Regions from separate parts of the Homo sapiens genome. Here all the other regions are reported to be linked to region 2. Evidence: microRNA targets listed by miRTarBase, many of them from high-throughput screens and not tested one by one. Region 2 holds a microRNA gene; each other region holds the end of a gene's coding sequence.
Evidence for each region. Region 2 holds the annotated microRNA hsa-miR-7843-3p (AUGAAGCCUUCUCUGCCUUACG, at 1,692-1,713, shown strand). A microRNA usually pairs through its seed, bases 2 to 8, with sites in the 3' UTR of a target mRNA and lowers its output. Matches are read on the target gene's strand: a 7mer-m8 pairs with bases 2 to 8, a 7mer-A1 pairs with bases 2 to 7 and ends in A, and an 8mer does both.

Region 1: miRTarBase lists PELI3 as a target of hsa-miR-7843-3p. Seed matches in the 3' UTR shown: 7mer-m8 at 886-892 and 7mer-m8 at 959-965.
Region 3: miRTarBase lists DDX19A as a target of hsa-miR-7843-3p. The part of its 3' UTR that is shown has no 7-base or 8-base seed match.

What each region holds. Positions count from the first base shown.
Region 1 is chr11:66,475,948-66,480,078 of GRCh38, forward strand. PELI3 (pellino E3 ubiquitin protein ligase family member 3) reads left to right here. Exons shown (of 8, transcript NM_145065.3): 8 at 1-1,390. The coding sequence ends at 220. DPP3-DT (DPP3 divergent transcript) reads right to left here. Exons shown (of 4, transcript NR_120586.1): 1 at 4,092-4,131. Among named protein-coding and RNA genes, the nearest start is that of DPP3-DT, 2.2 kb to the right of the region's middle. RefSeq lists enhancers at 323-1,143, 1,781-2,374, 3,313-3,880.
Region 2 is chr14:72,515,175-72,519,334 of GRCh38, forward strand. It overlaps MIR7843 (microRNA 7843), which reads left to right and starts at 1,646; the gene lies at 1,646-1,724. It overlaps RGS6 (regulator of G protein signaling 6), which reads left to right. Exons shown (of 18, transcript NM_001204424.2): 15 at 3,177-3,363. RefSeq lists enhancers at 1-97, 3,775-3,844.
Region 3 is chr16:70,371,446-70,375,575 of GRCh38, reverse strand. It overlaps DDX19A (DEAD-box helicase 19A), which reads right to left. Exons shown (of 12, transcript NM_018332.5): 11 at 4,013-4,130; 12 at 2,193-3,651. The coding sequence ends at 3,590. Among named protein-coding and RNA genes, the nearest start is that of DDX19A, 27 kb to the right of the region's middle.

The DNA of each region.
Region 1 (4,131 bases), not on the chromosome of region 2:
GCTTGGCCAGGAGGCCGGCCTCTGCCTGGACCCTGGGCCGCCTAGCCATGCCTTTGCACCTTGCGGCCACGTCTGCTCTGAGAAGACTGCCCGCTACTGGGCCCAGACACCACTGCCCCACGGCACCCATGCTTTCCATGCCGCCTGCCCCTTTTGCGGGGCCTGGCTTACCGGCGAGCATGGCTGCGTCCGCCTCATTTTCCAGGGCCCGCTGGATTAGGCTCCCTGGGGCCCCCTGCTGCTGTGCCCACCTGCCCACCCAGGTCCCCACCTCCTGCAGCCCAGAGGGAGCTCTGCATGTGGGACACTCCCTGCTGGCACAGCCACACCAGATGGACATGTTGGATGGGCTGTGCCCTTCCCCCCAACTGTGGCCCCCCAAGGAGGTCCCCAAGATCTCCACCCCAGTCATGCTGATGGGGCCTTCAGCACCAGCTCTGTCCTGGGTCGATGGAGGAAAGCCCAGCCCCATGGCCTTGCCCTTCCTGGGGCATCCCACATCGTGCCGCCGACACTGTGTGCCCCTGGGGGAGTGAAGGGGCCAGGGGCCTTTGACCCCCAGCTTAGGCTGGCTATGCCCTGAGCCTGCCAACCCAGTTTCAGACACTCATCCTTCATCCTTCCTGCTGCCGCCCTGGGTTCCTCTATAAACCTCGCTGCTCAGCTGCCCCCACAAGTCCCACATGCCCCGCATGCGTGCAATGCCTCCAGCCCCCAAGTGAGTGGTGGGTGGGTGGCAGGCTGGGCCTAGCACTTGCTGATAGCCACTATGGGCTCGACTCTGTGCTAAGTGGTATCTGGGGACACAGAGGCAATCAGACCTGGTTCCCCCCCTGGTGGAGTTCACAGTCTAGTGGAGGACAGACTGTTAACAAATGGCAACACGGCTTCATGCGTGCCAGGATCAGAGTACAAATCAGGCTGTGGCAGGCCTCACTGGTAATGGAAAAGTGAGGGAGGCTTCACGGAGGAGGTGTCATAGGAGCTCAGCCTCAACGGCTGCTCGGAACCCTCCGAGTCCACAAGATGGGAAGCAAGTCCACAAGATGGGAAGCGTGCTCTATACAGAAGGGAGGGCCTGTGCACAGGCTCAGGTGTCAGTAAGCCAGAAATCCAGGGACAGAGTCAGGATGGCTGGAGCATGGACTGCGGGGGGAACAGAGAAGGGGGTGGAGCAAAAGGTTGGGACCATGTGACCAGGGAAGATGCTGGATGGAGGATTCTGAACCTCATTTGTGGACGGTCAGGAGTCAACAAAGGGAGGAGAGAGGACTCACTGGTCAAGAGTGTCGGCTGTGACACAAGGGCCATCATCCCTGAATGCCCACCATGTGCCCCGCACTGTGCTGATGATGATAATAATAACTACGTCCATTGAGCACTCTCCAGACACCGGGCTCTGCTTCTTGGAGGTTTTGTTATTTAATCCTCATAGTAACCCAAGAAGGGAGGTGTTGCCATTTTTGTCTCTGAGGAGATGAGGGCAGATGCACCAAGTCACACAACTAGAAAGTGGCCAAGCCAGGATTTGAATCCACAGCTGCTCCTCTCCATCACAGTGTTGCTTTCCTTCAACAGAGGTGGGGGTGAACCAAGCAGGGTTTTGGATACTAGATTGGTGGACACCCACCTGCTTCGTGCCCAGCCCTGCGCAGGGCCCCTGCAGTGGGCAAGGCCGGGCCTCTTGCAGCCCATGGTCTGCAGAGGGACCTACCCGTGCTTGTGTTGGAAGCTGGCCCCCACACCTGTGCTGGCCACCTGTACCCCAGGCCAGGATGCAGTGGGCTATTAGCCAGGCTGGAAGTGTTCAGAGGAGTGAGAACCAGGGGCTCTAGAAGGCCCAGGGAGGACCTGGAGCCTGAGCCAAGTCTTGAATGGCAGAGCATCTCCAGAGGCAGAGAGGAGTTGGGAGGGCAGCCCAGGTGAGGGGAACAGCATGGTGTGGCAGGGAACATGCCTGGTGTGGAGGGGGGCAGCAAAAAGGAATGGGGGGTAGGGAAGGTTGCTGGGGCCTGGTGGGCCTTGATTGCCATGGAAGCCAAGCCTGAACTGGATTCCTATTCATCCTGGCCACAGGTGGGCGTGTTGCTGGGGTTGCCCCAGACCATTCCTGCAGGGAGCGAGCCAGGAAGACAGGCAGACGGCTGTTCTGGAGATGAAGAGAAGAAGGCTCTGAGTATAGGCCTGACCTGGGCATCGTCCCCAATAGATGACAGAGCCTAGGGAAGTACAGATTCCAAGGGGAGGGATGGACCTGACCAAGGCCACACAGCTGGTTGCGGCCAGGGAGATCAGACCTGGGTTATTGAGAAGACAGAGGGCACCCGAATGTGATGAGAGAAGGAGGAGGGTGTGATCAGATTCTTGCTTCCAGAGCATGGCACTGCTGCAGTGGGGGTGAAGGGGAGGGTGGGGATGCTGCAGGAGGTGTGGGAGCATTCCAACTTCTCTCCCCTCAACATACACACAACACACAAAGCACTCAAAATCCAACTCTTCCAAGTTCTCTCTTCTGACCCTGTTGGGAACCAGGCAGGGGAACATTCTGATCCCATTTCCAGTGGGGAACCTCAGACCCTAGGAGGAAAGACCAGCAAAGGGCACCACAGTAGATGCTGGGGAGGATTCAGAGGTATTGGTGGAGGAGGTCAGAGCCCTGGTCTTGTCCCAGCTCTGCCTTTGCCAGCTGTTAGAGCCTCAGTTTCCTCAGTGCTAAAGGGGATAACAGTCACTACCTCGCCAGGTGGTTGTGAATATACAGAGAGCACCTGTAACACAGTTGATTCGTAACTGTTGCTCCTCACCGACCCCTTTTGCATTCCCATGGGGAAGAGCCAAGGCTGGGGAGTTATGACTCCAGTGATAGACTGCTCCATGTGAGTGACTGTGTGTGTGTATCTCTATGTTGGGGCCAGGGATATCTGAACTGTGTGGTGTTATAGGAGTCGGCGAACCTCTTAGCCTCAGTTTCCCTATCTGTACAATGGGTAAAGTGATCATACCTCAGGATTTTTGCAAGAATTAAATGAGGTCCTCCATGCCAAACTGCTAGCAAGGGACCTCAGTATATGCTCATCTTATCTGTGATCATAAAAATGTGATCACGTAGCTGGTTGGGGGGTCCTGAGAGCACTGGGGTCTTTTCCTTGCCTGAGCTGCCCCCTGCTGGCAGTGGGCAGCACTACCTCCCTTACCTGTGCACATTTCAACTTCACCTGTCAGCCAACTTTATACCCATTTTAAAGACAATGAAAACGGAGGCACAGGAAAGAAGAGGGGTGACTTTCCTAAGGACACCGACCAACTTGTTGAACTCCCCCATATAACAAGTAATCATCAAAGCTAACAGCTTGTAACACTGTTGTGTCAAGCAGGGCCTTGGGCACCTTTGTGGATGAGAAACTGGTGTCTATGGTAAGCAGAGGCTGTCTGGCCTAGACACGGGCGTAGCAAGGAGACCGTGCGGGATTTCAGTACCCAAACGCCCCTCACCCTGCGCAACTATAGGGAGCGGCACTGCAGTCAACACATCACAACTTACAATATCCCTTGGATTGGATTCAATTATTAGCCTGGTTTTCCGGTTCATAAAGCCAAGACTCCCAGACAACCTCACTCCACCCCCCAGTCTGACCCTGGGCCCTCACCACTACTCCCCATTTGGCCTAGGCCCTTCCGCATGCCCCACCCAGACCGTGGTCCCGTGAGTCCGTCCAGACCTGTAAAAGTGGACCGCGGGCCCGCCTCTGCTCTGGACTCCCTTTCGGGGCCGCAGGAGGCTTTCTCATCCATCAGGCATCTGGCAAGCACCAGGAAACTACCAGCCTGTTTGTGCTAAGGAAACTGAGGCTCGGGAATGTTTAGCGGCTCCTTCCAGGCCCGTGGCGGGTGGGTGGTGGTACAGTGAAGCAGTCGAGGCGTTTCTCCGCGCCCCTACACGGGTGGGACCACCTCAGCCCTGGCCCGATCCCACTCAACCGTAGCCCCGATTCCCGGCACCGAGAGCTTTGCAACTTCCAAGTCTCCACCCCCAGGTCCCGAGTCCCGAGAGGAAGGTGGAGCCACATTACTCCTATTGTGTAGGTTCCCACCTGCAAGAGTGCTGTCGGGTCCTCTGAGGTGAAACCCCAA
Region 2 (4,160 bases):
AGAAAACTGCTGTCTAGGGAATGTTACCCCATACCTTCCCCCTCTCCCTTCTTGCCCTTTCCCCCTCCTTCCCTCCCTTTCTCTCCCCTCCCCTTCCTCTTCCTCCAGCATGCCTGTTGTTTTCACTTGTACTTAAAAAAATTCTTGGTTTTATGTGACAAAGAAAACCTTTTTATTTTTACATAAAAGTTTATTAAATTTGATTCCGCGGCCTGGTGCAATGGCTCACGCCTGTCATCCCAGCACTTTGGGAGGCCAAGGCGGGCGGATCACTTGAGGCCAGGAGTTCAAGACCAGCCTGGCCAACATGGTGAAACCCCATCTCTGCTAAAAATGCAAAAATTAGCTGAGCATGGTGACATGCCCCTGTAATTCCAGCTACTCAGGAGGCTGAGGCAGGAGAATAGCTTGAACCTGAGAGGCGGAGGTTGCAGTGAGCCGAGATGTAGCCACTGCACTCCAGTTTGGGTGACAGATCATGACCCTGTCTCAAAAAAATTGATTATGAAATTTGTATTTCCATCAGCTCCGGTCATCTCTATATCCAGCTGAGTGATGTACATTTTCATGTGGCACCCAAATCATCCTGCAAAAAGGACCCTGAGCCCTCAGGAACCGCAGGGAGCCTGCAGAGCTCCCAGGGTCCTCAGGGCCTTCCCACAGGGGCTCAGCAGCTCCTCCTCAGTGCTGACAGAGGTGACAGAAAGTGACCTCCCATGTGGCATTGATTGAGGGGGCAGGAAATCACCCAGGTGTCATCCATTTGTGTGAGAAGTTGCAGGGGCCCAGGGGGCGTGGGAAGACGCTGACCCAGAAGGTTGCTTCCAGCCAGGGATTCAGCCCAGACGGCCTCCCTCTGTGAACCTGGTTCTCCTGTCTGCCTAGCATGGGGCTGAGGAAGCCTCACTGACTTCGTCTCTGGACATTTGACCCCTTCTGGGCCTTGGAAAAGCCAACACTGGCTTCTTCCTATAGAGCCAGGTTCCCCGCATCTTTCACCTACTGGTCAGACATGGCCTTCCAGGCAGAGAAAGCCTTGTAGGTACTCTCACCAGCAGATGGCCATTTTCACTTGGCAAGCCTCCCGGCCACTTCCTTCTTTTCACAGCAGACCTGAGAGAGTGGACAGAGAGCCCTACAGAACCTAGGGCAGGCCTGGGAGATGGAGGAGACCCATGCCCCAGCTCAAGAGTCAAGGGCCCACCTGAACAATGAGGTAGGGGAACAGCTCCTTTCAAGCCCTTCCTTCCCCACCCTCTCTGGACTCTGGATAAAGAAACACGACTGCTTTCCTCTCACCCAGAAGCCAGAAGGACCTGAGCACCCAGGACTTGTGGCTGTCAGAGAGCTGTGGAAGGGCAGGGGACACCAGATGGCAGCAGCAAGAGCTGGGCGGCAGCATCTGCCCAGGCCACCTGCGGAGAGAAGGCTGGAATCCGAGGGATCACACTGGGCCAGCATTGAGCCTGTGGCCACCACACTGACCCCTCCTCAGCTCCCCCTCACAGGACCTGAAAGCATTTCTGAGTTAAGTCTGCATAGGAAGTTTTCCAGAGCCATGCCACATATCCCTCCATCCACTCAGTGCCCATTTTACAGATGAAGAGAGAGGCACCCAGAAAGGTACACCAAGGCAAGATATGGCGTAGACAGGATGAGGGCAGAGCCAGCTTCCTGATCTGATGGAAGTCATGAAGCCTTCTCTGCCTTACGCTTGGCTCTGCAGGGTCGCTGAGAGGTTCCTTTAAGGAGATCATCAGAATCCTAAATGGCAAAAAATGGCAAATCAGGGGAAGAGTTGGAGCCCAGCATTTGGGGACACACACACACACACACAGTCGTCTTGCCTTGCAGAAATTGGGTTGCATTACTCCAGTCTGCCACTGAGTGGCACCTTTGGGCCATGCACTTGGCTCCAAAGACATTTCTCTGAACAGCAACAGAAAAACATGTTTAACCCTAAAAAAAAAAAAAAAAGAAACAAGTACATCTTACTTTGGATGAAATTTGATGACAGATTGAATGCACTGTCTGCACTTTCCACCACGTCATGTTTCAGCTTCGCTTGTCCCTCCCTTTCTGTTGACTAGACTACCTGTGATTCCCGCTGCTCTCGGAACCAGCACAGGACCTACTCTCTTACTCACTGATGGGGGAGCTGGCCTGTCCATGCACAGGGCAAAGGATATGACACCCAGACCTGGATCCTGCTGCAAGGCTGCCTTGGGAACCATCCTTAAGACCCGGTAGCTGTTGTCCAAGCTTTGGCTCTGGCTGCTGCTGCTCTCAGCAGAAAAGAGCTCACTGCTCCCATGCGGATGCTGAGGGATTAAACAGAGGCAAATACGGAAGTGAGCAGATTTTTCTCTCTTGCTCTCAGCAGAAGGAGAACCATTCTGCAGAGAAGTTTTCAACATATGCCTCTTCAGCATTGCTCCAGATGCGTCCGTCTTCACTCTGAAACCCATATATTGAGCACCTACTATTTGCCAAGCACCGTGCTGAGCACTGATGTGAATTGGCTCAGTTTCTCCATCTATAATAGGAATGGCTGGTTCATTCTTACACAGATAGTCTTTATGATTCCAGGACACTGCCTGCTTCTGGGATCTCTCCTCCATTTTGATGCCATCACTTGATCCCAACTAGATTTGACAAAGGGTCTCACACTGTCTGCATGGTGGCATGTATGTAGCACTGGGGTTCTCAACCAGGAATGAGTTCATCTCCCAGGGGACATTGGGCAATGTTTGGAAACATTTTTAGTTGTCATAACTTGGGAAGGGGGGTTGCTATTGGCATCTAGTGGGTAGAGGCCAAGGTTGCTGCTAAACATCCTACATTTCACAGAATAGCCTCAACAACAAAGAATTATCCAGCCTGAAGTGGCAATAGTGCTGAGGTTGAGAAACCTTCATGTAGAAGGAGAGAAATCCCGTTCTGATAACGAGAAGCACATTGATCTTTTAATATGCAATTCTTTTCTGTTCTGCACCATAGGAACACCTTTGATGTTTTCACAATCTCCATGGTCTTTGCAGCTCATGTAGTGGCATCAGGGCAGGCTGAGAGATGCAGCAGAATGGGTTTCATGGGACATCAGCTCTGGGGCCATCTCAGGCAACATCCCGATGCTGAGCCCCCTGGAACTGACTGTGTTTCTGCTCCCACTTCAGGTTCTGGCTGGCTGTCCAAGATCTTAAGAAACAACCCCTACAGGATGTGGCCAAGAGGGTAGAAGAAATCTGGCAAGAGTTTCTGGCTCCAGGGGCTCCAAGTGCAATCAACCTGGATTCTCACAGCTATGAGATAACCAGTCAAAATGTCAAAGATGGAGGGAGATATACATTTGAAGACGCCCAGGTTTGCTTATCTACTCAAGTGGTTGTCATAAGGTGTTCATTTGTCCCCTTCATTGCCTGACCTATTAACACAAGTTCAAGGCATTGTGGGTAGTTAAAATTTCAGATTTGGTTATTTTTAAGTTCATCAGTGGAAACCATTTCAGATAGGCGCACAGCAAAATCCCAGGATCGTTTTCCTAGATGGGTTATGTATTACATAGAAACCAAAATGTGCAGTTATATGCTTTATTTGTTCCAGGAAAGCCTCAAAGTGTTTTACAAAATCTGAAGGCTTGTAATAAGTCAGTGATAGAATCTGGAAACCAGAACACAGCATTGGGGAAGTGGGTGTAGTGAGTTAGCAGGGCCATGAGTCAAACCCACATCTGTCTACCTCTGAAGCCCACACTGATAACCACCTCTCTACACTGCTTCCGCAGTGATCTCCAGCTCTGCAGTGAATATTTTTTAAGCACATCTATATTCCAGGCTCTGCGCTATGTGATAAGATACCACAAAGAACAGGCAAAACCCCTGTTCTCACCGAGGTTGAGTGGGAGACAGACAAGTAAATGGGCAACTTCAACAGTGTGAAAAGTGCCCCAAATGGGTGAACCCTAGGTTAAAGCAAGCCTGCAGGAGGGACTCCCAACCCTGTAGGACACAATTAAGATGCTCACAGATGCTAGTGATGCTGGCTAAAGAAACAGGAACCACCCTAACCAGCAGACTAAATTTTGACGGCTGGGAGGTGCCATTTCTAAAAATAAGCATTGGGTTGGTTTCTTACTTCCTGGCCCCTAATTTCTATTTCCT
Region 3 (4,130 bases), not on the chromosome of region 2:
TTAATCAGTGGGGGAGAAGAGAGAATTCTCCCTTGCAGAGGAGTTGAATAATTAATGTAGGTAGCTACTCTGCCCTTAAGGAGAGCATGTAACTTCCTTGAGGTGTGGGCTGCATGTACATAATGACTTCCTTTCAAAGAGTAGGATACAGGCCAGGGCTCAGCACAGTGGCTCATGCCTGTAATCCCAGCACTTTGGGAGGCCAAGGTGGGCGGTTCGCTTGAGGTTGGGAGTTCAAGACCAGACTGACCAACATAGAGAAACCCCATCTCTACTAAAATACAAAATTAGCCCAGTGTGGTGGCAAATGCCTGTAATCCCACTTGGGAGGCTGACGCAGGAGAATCGCTTGAGCTGGAGAGGCAGAGGTTGCAGTAAGCCAAAACCGTACCATTGCACTCCAGCCCGGGCAACAAGAGCAAAATTCCATCTCAATAATAATAATAATAATGTAGTGAGACAAGAATGGGCAGCTCCCCAACAGAAAAGATTTTCTAAGAAACTTAATGTTTGCCAAGCCTCACTAAATCAAAATCAAACAATGACATAATCTGTTTTTGCCACTTAGACTGGCAAAGTTTTAAACATTGATAATACTGTTGGCAAGCACGTAATTTTTGTATCACAGTAACATAAATTGGTAAAAACCTTTGGCAAGTGTAAATGACAATGAATTAAAATTTTAAATGTCCCTACTCTTTGACCCAACAATTCTACTTCCAGGAATAATATCCTGAAGTGATTTTCACCAACGCTCAAAAATAAGAATAAGGTTGGGCATGATGGCTCATGCCTGTAATCCCAGCACTTTGGGAGGCCCAGGCGGGCAGATTACTTAAGCTCAGGAGTTCAAAACCAGCCTCGGTAACATGGTGAGACCCCATCTCTACAAAAAAAAATACAAAAATTAGCCGGGTGTGGTGGTGCAGGCCTGTAGTCCCATCTACTTGGAGGGGTGAGGCAGGAGGGTCACTTGAGACTGGGTCGAGGCTGCAGTGAACCGAGATCATCATGCCACTGTATTCCAGCCTGGGTGACAAAGTGAGAGCTGGTCTCAAAAAAAAAAAAAAGAGAACAAAGATGTTCAGTTTGGGTCAAGGGCTCATGCCTGTAATCCCAACTACTTAGGAGGTTGAGGTAGGAGGATCAATTTAGCCCAGGAGTTTGAGACTGGACTGGGCAACTTAGTGAGACCCCATCGCTACAAAAATAAATAAGCAATAAATCTTTTTTAAAAAGATGTTCAGGCCAGGCACAGTAGCTCACGCCTGTAATCCCAGCACTTTTGGAGACCGAGGTGGGCGGATCACGAGGTCAGGAGTTTGAGACTAGTCTGACCAACATGGTGAAACCCCGTCTCTACTAAAAATACGAAAATTAGCTGGGTGCGGTGGCATGTGCCTGTAATCCCAGCTACTCAGGAGGCTGAGGCAGGAGAATCGCTTGAACCCAGGAGGTGGAGGTTGCAGTGAGCTGAGATCACGCCACGGAATTCCAGCCTGGGCGACAGAGTGAGACTCCGTCTCAAAAAAAAAAAAAAAAAAATGTTCGGCCAGGCGTGATGGCACCCACCTATAATCCTAGCACTTTGGGAGGCCGACAGAGGTAGGCAGACCACTTGAGGTCAGTTCGAGACCAGCCTGGCCAACATGGCAAAACCCCATCTCTACAGAAAATATAAAGATTAGCTGGGCATGCTGGCATGTGCCTGTAATCCCAGCTACTTGGGAGGCTGAGGCAAGAGAACTGCTTGAAGCTGGGAGGCAGAGGTTGCAGTGGGCCGAGATCACGCCTCTGTACTCCGGGCCAGAGTGACACTCTGTCTCAAAAAAAGAAAAAAAAAATGTTCATTGTGGTACTGTGGATAACAGCCATGTACTAGAAATCCCCCATGCCTGTCACTAGAGGAACCAGGAGATAAATGCCGGGACAGCTACACGCAGAAAGGAAGGTGGATGGTGTTTCCAGGGCAAGGAAGATGTGTGTGTATTGGACATGTCAACATGTCTAACACATGCTGATCAGTGAAAGCAGGTTGCATAGTAGTGTGAACAGAATGTTCCTGTTTTTGTAAAAGAAAAATGGGTTTATGCAAATAAAAGGCAATATGGTAGAATATTCACCAAGCTGCCAGGAATCAGGATCCCAGAAGAGAAGGGATAGAGAGCACTCTCACTTTATATACACACACGCCTTTTTAAAATGAGTATATATTTGTCTAATAAGCAGAAAAATACAAATAAAAACAAATCATTAGTAGAGCGTTTCTCATAATTACTTTAAAATGTCTTAGCATAATGAATGGTGCATACGCTACAATTTATCCATCCTTATTTATTTATTGAGTCGGGGTCTCGCTCTGTTACCCAGGCTGGAGTGCAGTGGCGCCATTTCAGCTCACAGCAGCCTCTACCCAGGCTCAAGCGATCCTCCTACCTCAGCCTCCCGAGTAGCTGGGACTACAGGCGTGCGCCACCAGGCCCGGCTATATTTTTTTCTATTTTTGGTAGAGACGGGGTTTCATCATGTTGGCCAGGCTGGTCCCGAACGCCTGAGCTCAACCGATCCGCCCGCCTCAGCCTCCCAACGTGCTGGGATTATAGGCATGAGCCACCACGCCCGGCCTATCCATCCTTATTCATATTATGTAGGAATCAGAGCTCTCCATAATGTCCACTATTATAAATGAACAGCATAATTCCCTTGGTCATAACTTCCATTCCAAATTCTTGCTCAGCTCTCGGCCCCGTGTGACACCTGGGGGTAAGAACCAACTACGTATGCGCTCAGAAACTCACCTGGGGTCTCCTGGCTGCCGTGACTGAGTACCAGGGGCCTAGGCAGAGGGAGCAACCGAGAGAAGAGAAGGCAAGACCAGGCCCAGCCCCTTCATCGGCCCTCGCCAGATCACTCTCTCTCAAGGGGTCAGGATTCAGACTTTCGTGTTTCTCTCCAAATCTGAAGTTTACAAAAGTAGCCGAGCTGCTCATCAGGGATATGCAAGTCTGCTTTCTGCAGCAGAGAACAGAAGTGAAAGGGAGAAGGGATGAGCAAGAAAGTCTCTGGATTTCAGGAGAAGGAAGACAGCCCCAAGGGCAGGAGAAACACTTGTGAAGGGTCCATTGAAGAGACAGAGAGGGGGCAGCTCTGGCCTCTCTGCTGCCACTTCCCTCATTCGATGCACAGCGGTGGGGCTCACACCATTTTCCACTCAGCCTCTTCCGCACAACCTGCACATCTATCGTTTCTTCAGGGGCTGGAGCTGGTTCCACGATGCCTAGCCAAAATCAGGAGGGGGTCCTGGGGCCAGCGACTACCACTGTGACCAGATTATTATAAAGATGGGGGAATGTGGCTTTAAAAAAGTGGGGAAAGGACCCAATTTTCCAAAATGCAAATTTTTTCTTCTATTGCCCCCCATCATTTGCACCTATTTTTGTCAAGTCCAAACATAATTTGAAGTGAGGTAGGTAGTTTCTCTCTACTTCTGCCGTTGTCCTTGGGGTGATGTCGGGGCCTGTGCCCTAAATGCACTTGTCTCCTGTGCAGGGGCAGTGCCAGGGCTGGCATCAGTGGCTGGTGGAGCTTCTCAGTTGGCTATTTTCTCAATCTCGTCCAAATCATCTGTGTCCAATCTTTCTATCTTCTTATCTGGGGGAAAGATACACAAGTCTCTACCCTGCCCAGGAATGTGCCCCACCTCAGGCCACAGCAATCATTCATTCAGGCCCAAAGGCTCCGGGTGCCTAAGCAGGGGGCAGCAGGGCCCCTAGTCACTGACAGCAACAGTCAGAGCCCCACGCCCCGAAGCCCAGTCACAGGGGAGCTGTCCTTGGAGTCCCTGGGTCCTGAAGTCTCCAGGTGTGCTCCCTGAGAACTGCCATATGGTCAGAAAGGAGGGGAGTGTGCTAGGGACAGAGCCTCTCTTGGGGCTACAGAAGATCCTACCCCTTTCACCACCCCGCCCTACTTAGCAAAGGGCGCCAGGCACAGGACCCTCCCCGGGACTCACTAAAATGCTCCTGGATTCTGTTCAGGATGTTCATGCTGTGCTTGCTGTCCACCATGTTCACTGCCAGGCCCCTCTTGCCAAAGCGGCCCGTGCGCCCGATCCGGTGCAGGTAGGTCTC